2 separate regions of the Homo sapiens genome follow, and region 1 is linked to region 2. The links come from fine-mapping of genetic effects on gene expression. Tissue or cell type: fibroblasts. Region 2 holds a variant in brackets; the other region holds the start of a gene. All regions are shown on one strand. Distances are between the middles of the regions.

What was found. PIP is the estimated chance that this variant, and not a neighbour inherited with it, causes the effect.
Region 1: it holds the start of DPF3, and the variant in region 2 is fine-mapped to the expression of DPF3 in fibroblasts (GTEx, PIP above 0.99).

The regions. Positions count from the first base shown.
Region 1 is chr14:72,890,456-72,896,621 of GRCh38, forward strand. It overlaps DPF3 (double PHD fingers 3), which reads right to left and starts at 3,646. Exons shown (of 11, transcript NM_001280542.3): 1 at 3,602-3,646. The coding sequence starts at 3,633. RefSeq lists an enhancer at 3,606-3,900.
Region 2 is chr14:72,662,870-72,669,035 of GRCh38, forward strand. The region is part of intron 8 of DPF3 (double PHD fingers 3); the gene reads right to left. Among named protein-coding and RNA genes, the nearest start is that of MIR7843, 150 kb to the left of the region's middle. The variant T/G (reference allele first, on the strand shown) is at 2,613.

The DNA of each region.
Region 1 (6,166 bases), 230 kb after region 2:
ACTCCAGCCTGGGCAACAGAGCAACACCCTGTCTCAAAAAATAATGATAATAATAATAATAATAATAGCATTATGTTTCCCAGGTATGCACAAATCAACCAGAACGTGACTAATCTACATGCAGGCCTTTATCAAATCCATATTTATGTTACCTGCATGTGTTTACTTCACTACCTGGGCCTTATCTCGCTTGTATATGTAAGAAATGAGGGTAACTCTCATACATCTTTGCTCAGACAATGTAGCTGCTAAATTAAATAATATGTAATACACATTTACACATCATACATGTCCACCAGTGCTTTTGAATTCTATTTGTCCAGATGTGACTGCTTGGTTGTGGGGGCCACCTGCCGTGTCCCCTTTGTGATCTGATCAGTGCAGGCGGCTCCTATTTCTGCCTCTAACACCCTGTTGGGCAGTAATAAGATGTTAAAGGCGACAACAGAGAGAGAAGCTGGGCTGTCAGCTTCAGAGAGGAAGGGGGTGAAGGGTACAACAAGGAAGAAAAAGAAAGGGAGTTGAGGGGAGATCAAAGACAGGCAGGAAGAAAGCCAAATTGCTAAGAGAGGAGATGTGGCTTCAGGAGCTTGGGACCCTAAGGAAAACCCCAAAGCAATGAGATTCAAAATTGTGCCATCCCATCACCCCAGCTAATTGAATTATTGAATGTCCCACGTGGAAAAAGCTAGTACAGTGAAAAATAGCCCATACTCAGCGTAGGCAGAGCCCTGCATAGGTGCTGCTGGAAATCTGAGCTTGTTTCTTCCCAACACATTAACTACCACCACTTTATCCCCCCATCCTGAGGAAACCTTTGTGTGACCATTTTCTGTAGGAGACGTCCGTGGTGTTGGCTTTTTTTTTTTTGGAGGGAAGAGAGAGACTCAGAACGCACACAGAGAAAATGCTAATGTCGTTCAGCTCTGTTTCATTGTCAGGAGGGACACATGAGGATAAAAACATAGCTCTCCAAACCATTCTCCCCGCTACCCCTCCTCCCTGCACCACCACCATCCCTTCGGCTGGATGTGTCTCTGCACTTTGTTCTAATTTATCCCATGCATAATTTATTCACGTGTGTATTGTTTCCTGATCAGCAACTTTTAAAAACAAATGAAATATATAAGATGTTTTATTAAACAAGTTATTTTTAAAAAAATAAAGGCAGATGGTGTCCCTCTCCCAATAACAACGTGTGTGCTCCTGCGTTAGGAGTTGTCAAAAACTGTCCAGGGTGTGAGAGGCTGGGCTGGTCAGTGGTATTGTTTATACCCCTTTACTCACAGGGAAAGGGTCTGGGAAGCAGAAAGGAATAGCTAATTATAAATGACCAAGCAACTCCCACCTAGAAAAAGCAAGCAGGGGCGTTGTGTGTATGCTAGTGTCTGCATGTGGGTGGCAACACAATTACAAATACATCACGTTGCAACTGTTTCTAATTATACAAAGTACAATTCAGAACTAATTCCACTAACCGGCCAGAATTCCGCCACCTTCTTTCCCGCGTCTGTCCCTTCCCCCACCCTTAACCCCACCCTACACAGACTCCCTCCCCAAACACGCACCCTACTGTGATCCAAAAAACCCTGGAGCGAGTAGGGGAACACAAGCTTAGAGATACTGCGCCCGCCCGCGCGAAAGCGGGCTCCCGGGTAACTAGGGTACGGCTTTCCCAGGAGGAAACAAACCTGGTGCACATGTGAAATAGGTTCTCTAACTTGAGTTTACCAGGTGGCATCAGCCCGGTTATGTGATTTCGGCTGGAAATGGGGAAACTGAAAATCAGTTGTGGGTTCGGTAGAAACAGCATCAGCGGTGTTGCAGCGAAAGCAACCGGCAGCGAGGATGCGGCGAAGTTACGCCCATTTATTCTGCCATAAAACATTTTCTTTCTTGGGTGAAACGCTGTGGCGTTCAAGCGCAGTGTATCCGAGCTTCCGAGCCAGAACTGAAGCCAGGAGCTCCTATCTGATCAGCCTCAGCTTCCAACGTCCTCTTAACGGCAGCTTTCATATAAATATATTTGAAACCTGGGGCCTTCCTACCCCTTTCCCTATTTCTGATGGGCGACGAGCTGGCGCAAACACGTCCGATTCTCCCTGTGCATTCCTTTGCGTTAGGAACCCCCTACCGTCCCCGGGAGCGAACCTGGTTTTCAACTCCAGGAGTGGCCAGGGGTGAAGACGAGAATGCGCTGAATTAAAAGAACCAGGGTCGACAGCGGCCACGCACCAGGGAGAATTCGGCATGAACCGCCCCCCACCCGACCTGCACCTCCCTCTGCCACTTCGCCTGCGGCTTCGTCCGGGCGGGGAAGTCCCGGTCGAAGGGGTGAGGACCCCCCAGCCCACCTCGGATACGGAGGGAGCCACCCTCTGCCGACATCACCCAATAGCACCCCTTTCAGAGCGACACTAGTTTTCCGAGGCCACCCCTGGCTCCGCGATCGCGAGCGGACTTGGCGGCTTAACAGTTCCACTGACTGGAAGGAAGGAAGGAAGGAAGGAAGGAAGGAAGGAAGGAAGGAAGGAAGGAAGGAAGGAAGGAAGGAAGGAAGGAAGGAAGGATGAAAAGGAGGAGGAAGGCAGGCAGGCAGAAATTGGCTGTTGGACCCGGGGCTGGCCCCCGCGAGTCCTCGCCCGGCCCGCCCCACTCTGTCCAGGATCTGGGCAAGCGCTCAAAGTCTCCCCGAGGCGGCCAGAGGCACCTGCCCCTCGCCCGGCCGGGAGCAGACGCTGCCCCCTCGGGCCAGGAGCCCCAAAACCGCCTCTCCGCCTGCCTCAGCGCCTCACCCAGAGGTGGCGAGAACACCATTCATAAGACCTGCGGCTTCCCTGCCTCCAAATCCACCCCAAGTTAACCCGAGTCGTTAATCCACTAAAGCCAGCTCGCTCGCAAATACACGAGCAGACACACGCTCGATCGCCCGGAGCGCCTCCGAGATCCGGGGGCTGCCGGGGAAAGCCCGGGGCGACCACCTGGGCCCCAGCACGCCCGGGACCCGCTGCTTCCCCCGCGGTGCTCCAACTCCGGAAGGTTTGCACAAACTCCCCGCGAGCGATCGGAAGGCGAAGAGCGCCCTGCAAACTCCGGAGCCTCCGCGGTCCGTCCGCTGGACCCAGCGGACCCAGCGGCGGGGCGGGGGCCGCGGGCTCGGGGGCGCGGGGCTCGGCCAAGTACACCGAGGCGGCCACTGCCCGACGCTCGCCCCCCGCCCAGCAGCCCCCGAAGCCGCGCTCCCTGCCCGCGAGGCGGGGGACTCCGGGGACCGCGCCGTCCCCGAGCTCCCGCGACCCTCCTGCTGTAGAGCGCTCGAGCGCCGGGCTTCTCCGCCTGCAACCCCTATATCTGGCTCTCTCTGCAATTTAGCAGAACACAAATGTAACAATTTTCTTCTTGTTAATTGCATCTCCTGACATTTCTGCGCGTTGGGGGAAAAAAAGAAGATGAAGAAGTAAGAGCTGAAAGAAGAGAGAAGCCCCGCCGCGGCTGGAGGCGCCTGCAAGCGCAATGCTCTGGCAGCGCTCGCCACGCAGAAGGCGCCTTTTTTTTCATATTGAAACCACGCGGAATATGTACATTTTTTAGTCTTACTTACGCTTTCAGGGGGTTGTGAATGACAGTCGCCATTTTGCTACAATGTAACAGAATATTGTCTCAGAGTTCTAAAGGTTCGCTCAGGGGAAGCGACGGGCCAATCACAGCGCGGGATACCGGCCCGCCGGCCAATCGGCGCTGCTGGTAGCTAGGTGGGCGGGGCCTGCGCCGTGGTAGTTATTAGGAGAGCTGTCAAAGCCCAGAGGTCACTCCCTTTTGTAGAGCCCGAGAGCCAGCAGGTCTTAAAGGGGCAGTACAGCGCTGGTAGCTCCTTTTCGGGCTGGGGAAAGTGGAGACGCACGGGAGAGTATTATAGTTTGGTTTAACTCCCTACTTTTCTAAATAACTGCAGAAGAGTTTGCGCTCCCGGACAGAAATATTTAAATATTGCCAGCAAGCCACTGAATCCTATTCATTAGCCTTTGGCTTTGCGTATCAACATTTTTAATCCCCCAAAGGGTAAATCCCCGTGTTTCAGTGCAAAAGTTGGAAGGCTGCCGTTTCGTGTTAACAAATTACTACATGTGCTCTGCCGTTTGCTAATGCTCTGGGTCCTGCCGCTTTTTAATATTCTTATTCCCGAAGTGTTCTCTTTATCTCGGCCACCTTCCTCTCTCGCTTCTTGGAACTGTCGCTGCTGTTCCTGGCGACTCCAGGACAGCAACTCACCCTCCCCCTGGAACGTCTCAATGTCAGGCTCGCTCCCTCCTGCAGCCAGGGCTTTCCTTACGTAGTGCAGGGGGGTTACTCTGCGCGGTTCCCCGCTACCACCCCTTCGGTTCTTCCCTCTACACCAGAAACTTCCAAAATGCTCAGATTCCTGCTAGGTGGTGGGACCTGGAGCTCTGATCTTTAGGCTTAGGGGTAGGGAGGACTTAAGGCAACCTTTGGAAACTTTCTACTGCTAGGAAGCAAGTGACTAGGCAGAAGTTGTAGAGCCTGGACTGGGTGTTATCAGGGTCCCTTTAGAGGAGTGGCACACGCGATTCTGGCGTCACCTTTCACTACTTAGATAGAAGGTGGAAAGAATTTGCTAATGAATAATCCGATGTGACCCGAGGCGTCCAATGAGTCTGTGTCTGCTTCAAGTCAGTGTGAACTCTTCACTGGCGAGCCCCTGACAAAATTGGGAGACTTCTGCGAAGTCAGGCTTCCACTGGGCACCGGGAAGCTCTGGGGGGATGAAATCGCATTAAATCGCGAATAGGGTAGGGGCCTCGTTAGCATACAGAAGTCTGGCTACCATTCCAAAGCTGTTTAATCAGATCAAATAGCTAAGATAGTGGGGGAGGGGTGGCAAGGGGAGAGAAGTTGCCAAATTGCCAGTTCTTCAAAGCTATGCCCTCTCGCTTCCTTTTGCTCCTCTCAAGACAATGAATAAAATAAAATAAACATTCCAGAATTTTAAGAGTTCAACTACATACACTATTAGATTTACAGATAAACAGAACGTGGCTGAATCACTATGTTTTTAAAAGATTTGAAATCTTTAACTCCTCTCTGCGTATTTAAGAAGCAGAATTGAGTTCTATAGATTCCTTTGTAAATCCTTTGCATAGCATCTTGGCAGAGATTACAGTTTGAAAAAGTTATCTCCTTTTCCAAAATTGAAGTTTGAAAAATCCCTTCTTTACTAATTTGACAAGAAATTGGTTCAGAAGCCTATACTTTGCCTGAGGTGGGCCTTGACATCATTGAAAAGCAAGAACTGTATTCTGACCCAAGAAGTATGAGTTTGAATTATCAGTTAGAACTCCCAATAACCTCTTTGAGGTATCAAAGACACAACAATTCAGATTAGTAGACGACAACGTATTTTCTTACATGCAGCCTGATAAAGGAGGAAATGTAGAGCATGTCCTGAACAAGATTTACAATGGGGGAAGAGAGAAAAAACAAATGTATATTACATATTAAAGAAAACACATACTCTAAGCATGTACATATCATTTATTGTGTTAAGGCCTGGATGCAGAAACCAGCATAATCTCTAACTACCTAACGAACTTGAAAATGTCAGATCAGATTTATTGATTGGATTGGAAAATAGTGAATTAAAGACAGTACTTTAAAAAAAAAAAAAGGATAGCCTTGCTTTTTGTAACCCAATGGAATGTCATTTTAACTCTATCAATACAGTTATGACTTTTAAAGAAACACTTATATTTAACAAAAGAGTTATTTTACTTTAATGTTTACATTATAGATCAAAATATAAAGATTTCTTTTTTTTTTTTTTTTTAACCAGAAGGTTCAAAAGCAAAGAGTAGGCATGTTTAAAGAGGACAGTATCCTTAAACAGTTTTGGAGAAGTTTGGCAGTTCTGGGGCAATTTCATAGTGCTGTACATGGCAGAAGTATGAGCTCTGGAATCTACCAGCCTGAGTCCACTATTTACCAGCTGGGTTACCTTGGGCATATTTACTTGCCAGGATTAAATGAGGTAATACATGTCAAGTGTCTGACACACAGCAAGCTTTCAATCCATGTTATTATTTCTTACAGAGATAATTAATTCTTTCCTTACGGCATATGGAATGTAGGGAATCCAAAAAACAAGGCACAA
Region 2 (6,166 bases):
ACAACAGCATGGAACAACTACTTAAAAAAGAAAGATGAAAATTAAGGGGTGACAGAAATGAAATGAATTAAAAAAAAAAAAGAAGAAGAAAGAAAGAAAACCACCAACTAATTGCCAAGTTAATGAGGCTAGGCCAGGTGCAACAAAAATCAGGGTAGTGTGTCCAGCGCCTTGAACTTCAGCAGCATGAGATCAGCCAGGAATAGGGCAGGTCAGTTGCTACTGGGCCAGAGGCAGAGAGAACACAGCTGGATGGTCAATTCCCAGGTGGTGTAGCAGGCAGAACTGGGTGTTAGCAAAAAAAAAAAAAAAAAATTCCCCTCCACTTAGAAACCAAACAAACTGAATCTTTTCACAGTTAAAACACCCCAGAAAGGACCTTTATGATGTCATCTCTCTCCCTGCCATCCAAGTAGAAATGAGTAGTTCTATGGTATAGAACCAATTCAGCCACAGAAAACCCCATCAGATGCCTCATTTGGCCTAAGCCCAAAAGGACACTGCTTCCTTCACAAGCACTCACACTCAGCCCCAACCCTGCCCCAAGTGATTCAAGTGTGTCAGAGTTACTCGGAGACAGTCCCCAACCAAGAGACCAGTTCCAGTCCTCTACTAGCACAGTGATCCCTTTGTCAGCCTTGGAACCTGGTGGTGGTTCACACAGGTGGGCCCTTTTGCCTGGATAGCCACGCATAGCTTTTGCTTCTAGCTGAAATGAAATCTGCCATTTTGGTCTTTGGAACGGAGTAGTTGACACAAAGGAGTGAGCAATGAAACCAAGTACTGCCACATTTCACCCCGGAAGCAGTTTCTGAAAGCAGAGATGGGTGTCCCAACAGTGCCTAGATCACATTAAGCTGAGCGATAAGGGAGGGAGAAGAGGGAGAATGGGCCTAAATGGAAAATGGCCAAGCCAGCAAGGAAAAAAGCTCAAAAGCAAATGAGCAGCTCAGCCTCTTCCAAGTTGAAAGGCCCCTCCCCTGCCCCACCTCTCCTGGTACCCAAGCATCACTCAATGGCCAGGTGCACAGGCCTGGATTAGATGCTCTTCCAAAGCTGAGACTCCATTCATCCAACTTTCCTCCTTGACCAAGTCCTCCCTCCACACCTGCTCCTGTTCCTTGCCTCTACCCCATCCCACCCCACTGTCTCCCTTTCTGATCCGCTTTGCTGGTGCACCCTACCCCCACTTCCCTCATGCTCTTTGCTGTCACCACCTGCCTCTAGCTCCTTCCCTTGACTGATCAAACCCAGGTGACCTTTCCTGGGACCTCCCACAGAACGCCTGCCGATTGTTCTCTCCATGGGCATCTGTCATCATTTCACTCCCTGCCAGGAGTCTTTCTGTCCCTCTCCCAGTGCCCTGACCCCTCTGGTCAGATGTTACCTGCCACTCTGTAGTGAGTCTGTCTCATAAGCTTACCCCACACCTTTCAGTTTCTTCAAATTTCCACCCCGACCTCCCAACACACACACACATGTATTTTTCCTTTGCCCCACTAAAGCCACCTAGAAAATCATGCGTGAGTCCCAACTTGGCACTCCTAACTTCCATTTTCTCTTTTGTTTCCTCTGGTCAGGTCAACTGCAGGCCACAAAAATGAAACAATGTGCAGCTGTGTTCTTAGTCTCCTGCTCTCAATCCCCTGCAAGAAGGCATAGTTTTCTACCCCTCCACACACATGGTCAACCCCTCCCCACCCCTGTCCTGACATCCCCCTTTTCTCTCCTTTACCCCTCACCACCACCTCACCACCTCCCACCTGCCCCCTCTGACTTAACCACTGGATGCTGTGTCCAGAGACTTCTCCATTCTTTCTGTCAACAATATTTATTAAGCATCCTCTATGCATAGAGTGAGATTTGGTAAGACTTCCACTAATTATCTCAGAAACTGCTCAGTTCTCAGTTTATTTCAACAAATAATTATGGCACACTGGTGTCAGGCACTGTCTGGAGGATATGAGTGATATCACCTTTGCCCTCAAGGAACACGCCATCTGTTTGAGAAGGACTACAAGCAAACATGATGTGTTGTGATAAGCACAGGAGCGGCAGGAACAAAATGCTATGGAATGGTACTTAGGCGGGTTTTCAAATGGTGATTTTTGCCATTTTACATGGGTTAGGTTGTGATTCCCAGCTTTGCTTTTTGTTCGAATATTATCTCCATTGTCTCTGACAATAGACATTCTTGCCTACAGATTCAACAGCAACGGTCCATCTGGAGCTCTTTGTTGATCTAGATGGCTTCCTCCAAGAAAATCTTCTTGTCTACTGAGATCCATGGCAAAAATAATCACATACTACCCCATGACAGCTCTTACATGATTTTAACTATTTGTGAATTTCTAGTCTGATCCACTAGGTCACAAAATAAATCCAATGGCCAATAAATTCATTGCCCCATGTTTAATTTTATCCTATCCTTGACAGTGCTGAGCAGTCACACGCATACTGTTATTACTCAGTCCCTAGTTGCCAAATGAACCGAGGTATATCTGAATGAAAATGTTATCATCCAAGGTCTGTAAACAGAATAGCCTGAAATCTCAGCTGAAAGGCCAAATGTCTGAGTCACCAGTAATGGGGTAAATCAATCACATACCTCC[T/G]GATGTAATGCACTGAGAAGGATACAACATCATTTCTAAGGTATTCTAACCAAAATGCACAACTTCAGTTTAGTCATTAGAAAAACAGCATCCAAGCCTGAACTGAATGGCTTTTGCTATGAAATGACTAACCAGTATCGAGGTTGTGAAAAACAAGATTGTAGTACTAACTATTCCAGATTAAAGGACTTGTAAGAGGACATGGCAACCTGTGAGCCCAGACTGGATCCTGGACCAGAAAAAGGACACTAGTGAGACAACTGGCAGAATTTGCATAAGGTCTGTAGGTTATAGCATTGCATCGATGTGAATTTCCTGATTGTGATCATTGTACTGTGGTTATTTGAAGAATCTGGGTGAAGGACATATGGGAATTCTTGGTAAAATCTTTGTAAGTTTTTTGTAAGTGTAAATTATTTCAGAAGTAAATTTTTTAAAAAGCCATAGTTATTGGTTGAGTTCCAGTGGTGAGATACTTTGAAAACCTAATTGCCAATGTTTTTTATCTAATAATTCAGTTCTGACAGGAATCTTCCATCATTCCCATTTATTTTGTAAACCAATCATGCAGAATGGCTTTTCCTATATTGCTATTTTGAATAGGTGATCAGAAATCACTTTTATTAAACACCACAATATTATATAATTCAATGTTTTTGTGTTAGAAGCAATTGGGTTTGTGACCAGGGCCCAAAATGTTCACTCCCTGCCACCATTACTCCCGCTACCACTGGCACCACAAAAACAGTGACCATTTAGGAAGCTCAACTTTAGTTCTCCCAGAAAGTTCATGAGGACTTAGACATTGCTACTTCTCAGAAAGATTCTAATGTGTCATAGTTTCATTTGGGGTTTCTGTTGTTTCAGTTTTTTCTTTTACAGAATCAAATACCTCCTTTTCATCCAATAAATTCTTGAATAAAAGACCTACAGGCATTTTACTGATTTCACTCAAGAAATCTTCCAAAGATGATCTTTGGGGAAGTCAGTATAGACTTAGGAAAGATTATTAGAAGATCCATACATCATTTACTGAGCCTGGAACTTTAGACAAGTCATCAAACAGGATCAAATCTCAGTTTCCTCATCAGTAAAACGGGAATAAATAACATCTACCCTACCTCATAGAGTTAAGCATCATCATGAAATAATATAAGCTACATATTCTAATAGGGAAAGAAATGTCCATTTCCTCTCTCAGAAACTGAGGCAGAGATCCCTGTCAACAAATTCACACAGGGAGCTGAGCCCAGAGCCCAGAACTTGTCATCTCCACTCTAGGCTTCCACACACCAGATCAAAGACACCTCACTCAGAAAATACACAACACAAGTCACTTCTCCTCCAAAGGCTGAGCAAAATCCCCTGAGGAAAAATTCCTAACAGATGAGTCTGCTCCAATTTTAAGTACACGTTCAAGATCATATTCATCAGATGTAACAGGAGGTATACTGGGATAAAATTAATTAATTTTATTCCACCATGAGGTGAGAACCCCCAAACACCCTTTAGTTCTCTCCCTGAGTAATGATCTTGCATTCCCTCCAGTGCTGTATAAAGCAGTATCAGTCTGTAGCCCATTAGATGCAGAGAGAGATGCAGAGTAAGCAGGAACCCTTAAAGGGATGCTATTGATGTGAACATCACATTTTTTTTTATTAAATTCTTCTCTCTAAAATACCGGTAGCAAATTGGATTACTGTCTTTATAGTACCTCTAAAAAATTAAATGCATATTTCTAATTCCCAGGGTCATAGTGATTATAGTGTCTGATCTTTACATAGTCTCTCAGTAACAGAAATAAAGGATTTGATTGTTCTAGGTAGGGAAAAAAATCAGCTAGACCATAACAATTGTCACCTTTAGGTCAACAGCCCCCCTCCCCAGGGGATTAAAATGTTGTAACAAATTTAGAAAGTTCTATATCTTTGGTTCCCCTCTCTTTGGCCTGGGACTCAGAAAACTCAGGGTGGTACTTTACTGAGCTGAGGGCAAAGGAAGCTGGCCAGATCGTTTTCATCTTGATGACTCTAATTTCTTTTGTATTTTAAATTTTGAGTAGTGATACTTATTTAACAAAAGCAACAACAGAAAGGTGTGTTGACTGTTCACACAGCTCCTACAATTCCTAAGGTCACAAAAAAGGTGATCTCTTTGTACATTGTCTAGAAGTGATGATTAAGAAGGTAAGTTATCTACAATATTCCGCAGAGAATCTGAATTAGAACTCTCTTTTACAGGATCTAATTGCTTACTCTTCCGTTGTTGAAATTTCTTTTAATGACGTTACCTTTTAAAAGCTATATTCATTACAAAAACCCTTTTCTTCAGTTGGAATTGAGAAACAGCAAAGTATGTATACATGCATGCATATATATTCCTTAATTATAGACTATGCAAGGGGCAATGCAGGCAACGATAGAGTATAGGCTCTACAATCAGGTTGCCAGGGATCAAAACCTGGCTCCTTCCTAGGTGTACATTTCTTAACCTTATTACTAACCTCAGTTTCCGCAAACTGGGGATTAATATAAACACCTATCTCATGGGAGTAGTCATGAGGATTAAGTGAAATATTCCAAGGAAAGCGCCCAGAATAATGCCTCACACAAAAATGTAGATGACTGCTATCTAGAAAAAGGGAGATAAAGATATCACATCCACCACTAAAGTGGTTGGAAACCAAGGACAGCCAGCTTCCTCATCCGACACCTTCTCTCTCGGAGCTTCCTTCCTTTGCCTTAAAACATTTCCCTCCAATGCAATGCCCATCCCAGTCCCTCCAACTTAACTCACTTAACCTCTCTGGGTCAACTTTTCTCAACTGAAAAGTGAAAGATTTGAACTTGATCATCTTAAAAGTCCCTTCCAGTTTTTAAGGGTATAAATCTTGAGTCCGTTCAAAGACTCTATAAGCAAGGTGAGACAAGATGGTCTGGCCATGCTAAGAAACCTTACTATGCTTCTATTACCCCAAGGAAGAAAAGTGAGGATATCAACTACCTCCAAGAAGAGAAACTGAAGATCAAATATCAAGCTATACTATTAAATATAAAATAGACAAGCAATACCCATTCTCAGATAAACATTCTCCTGGGAGTTTGCCTTGTTAGTTCTAAATGGTTAGTTTCTCTGTTAGACTCCAAGCTAGACTCTGAAATTAGGTAGCCTTTTATAATTTGCTTTAAATATGTGGATTAAAAAAAAAAACACCTCAAGTGTAAAGGCAAATTGTCATTGAGAATTCTGGGACTATGAGCAACTAGACAGAATTCAAATGAGAGTGTAGATTGGTTGAACATATGTTTATTAACATAGAAGCTCACATTTTATCAATGAAAGCAAGTTGTAATCCCATGAATCCAATATCTGAGTCAAAGGTACAGAGTAAAGAGGTGGAAAATGACAGCAAGTGTACATTGTATCCCCGTAGCAGAAACCTACTGGAACAAACTCTATTGGCTGACGTGTGAGCATGCAGAATATGACAACCTTGGAGGTTTATGCCATATTTCCTAGGAACAGGCCACATATAGATTAGACAGAACAACCCA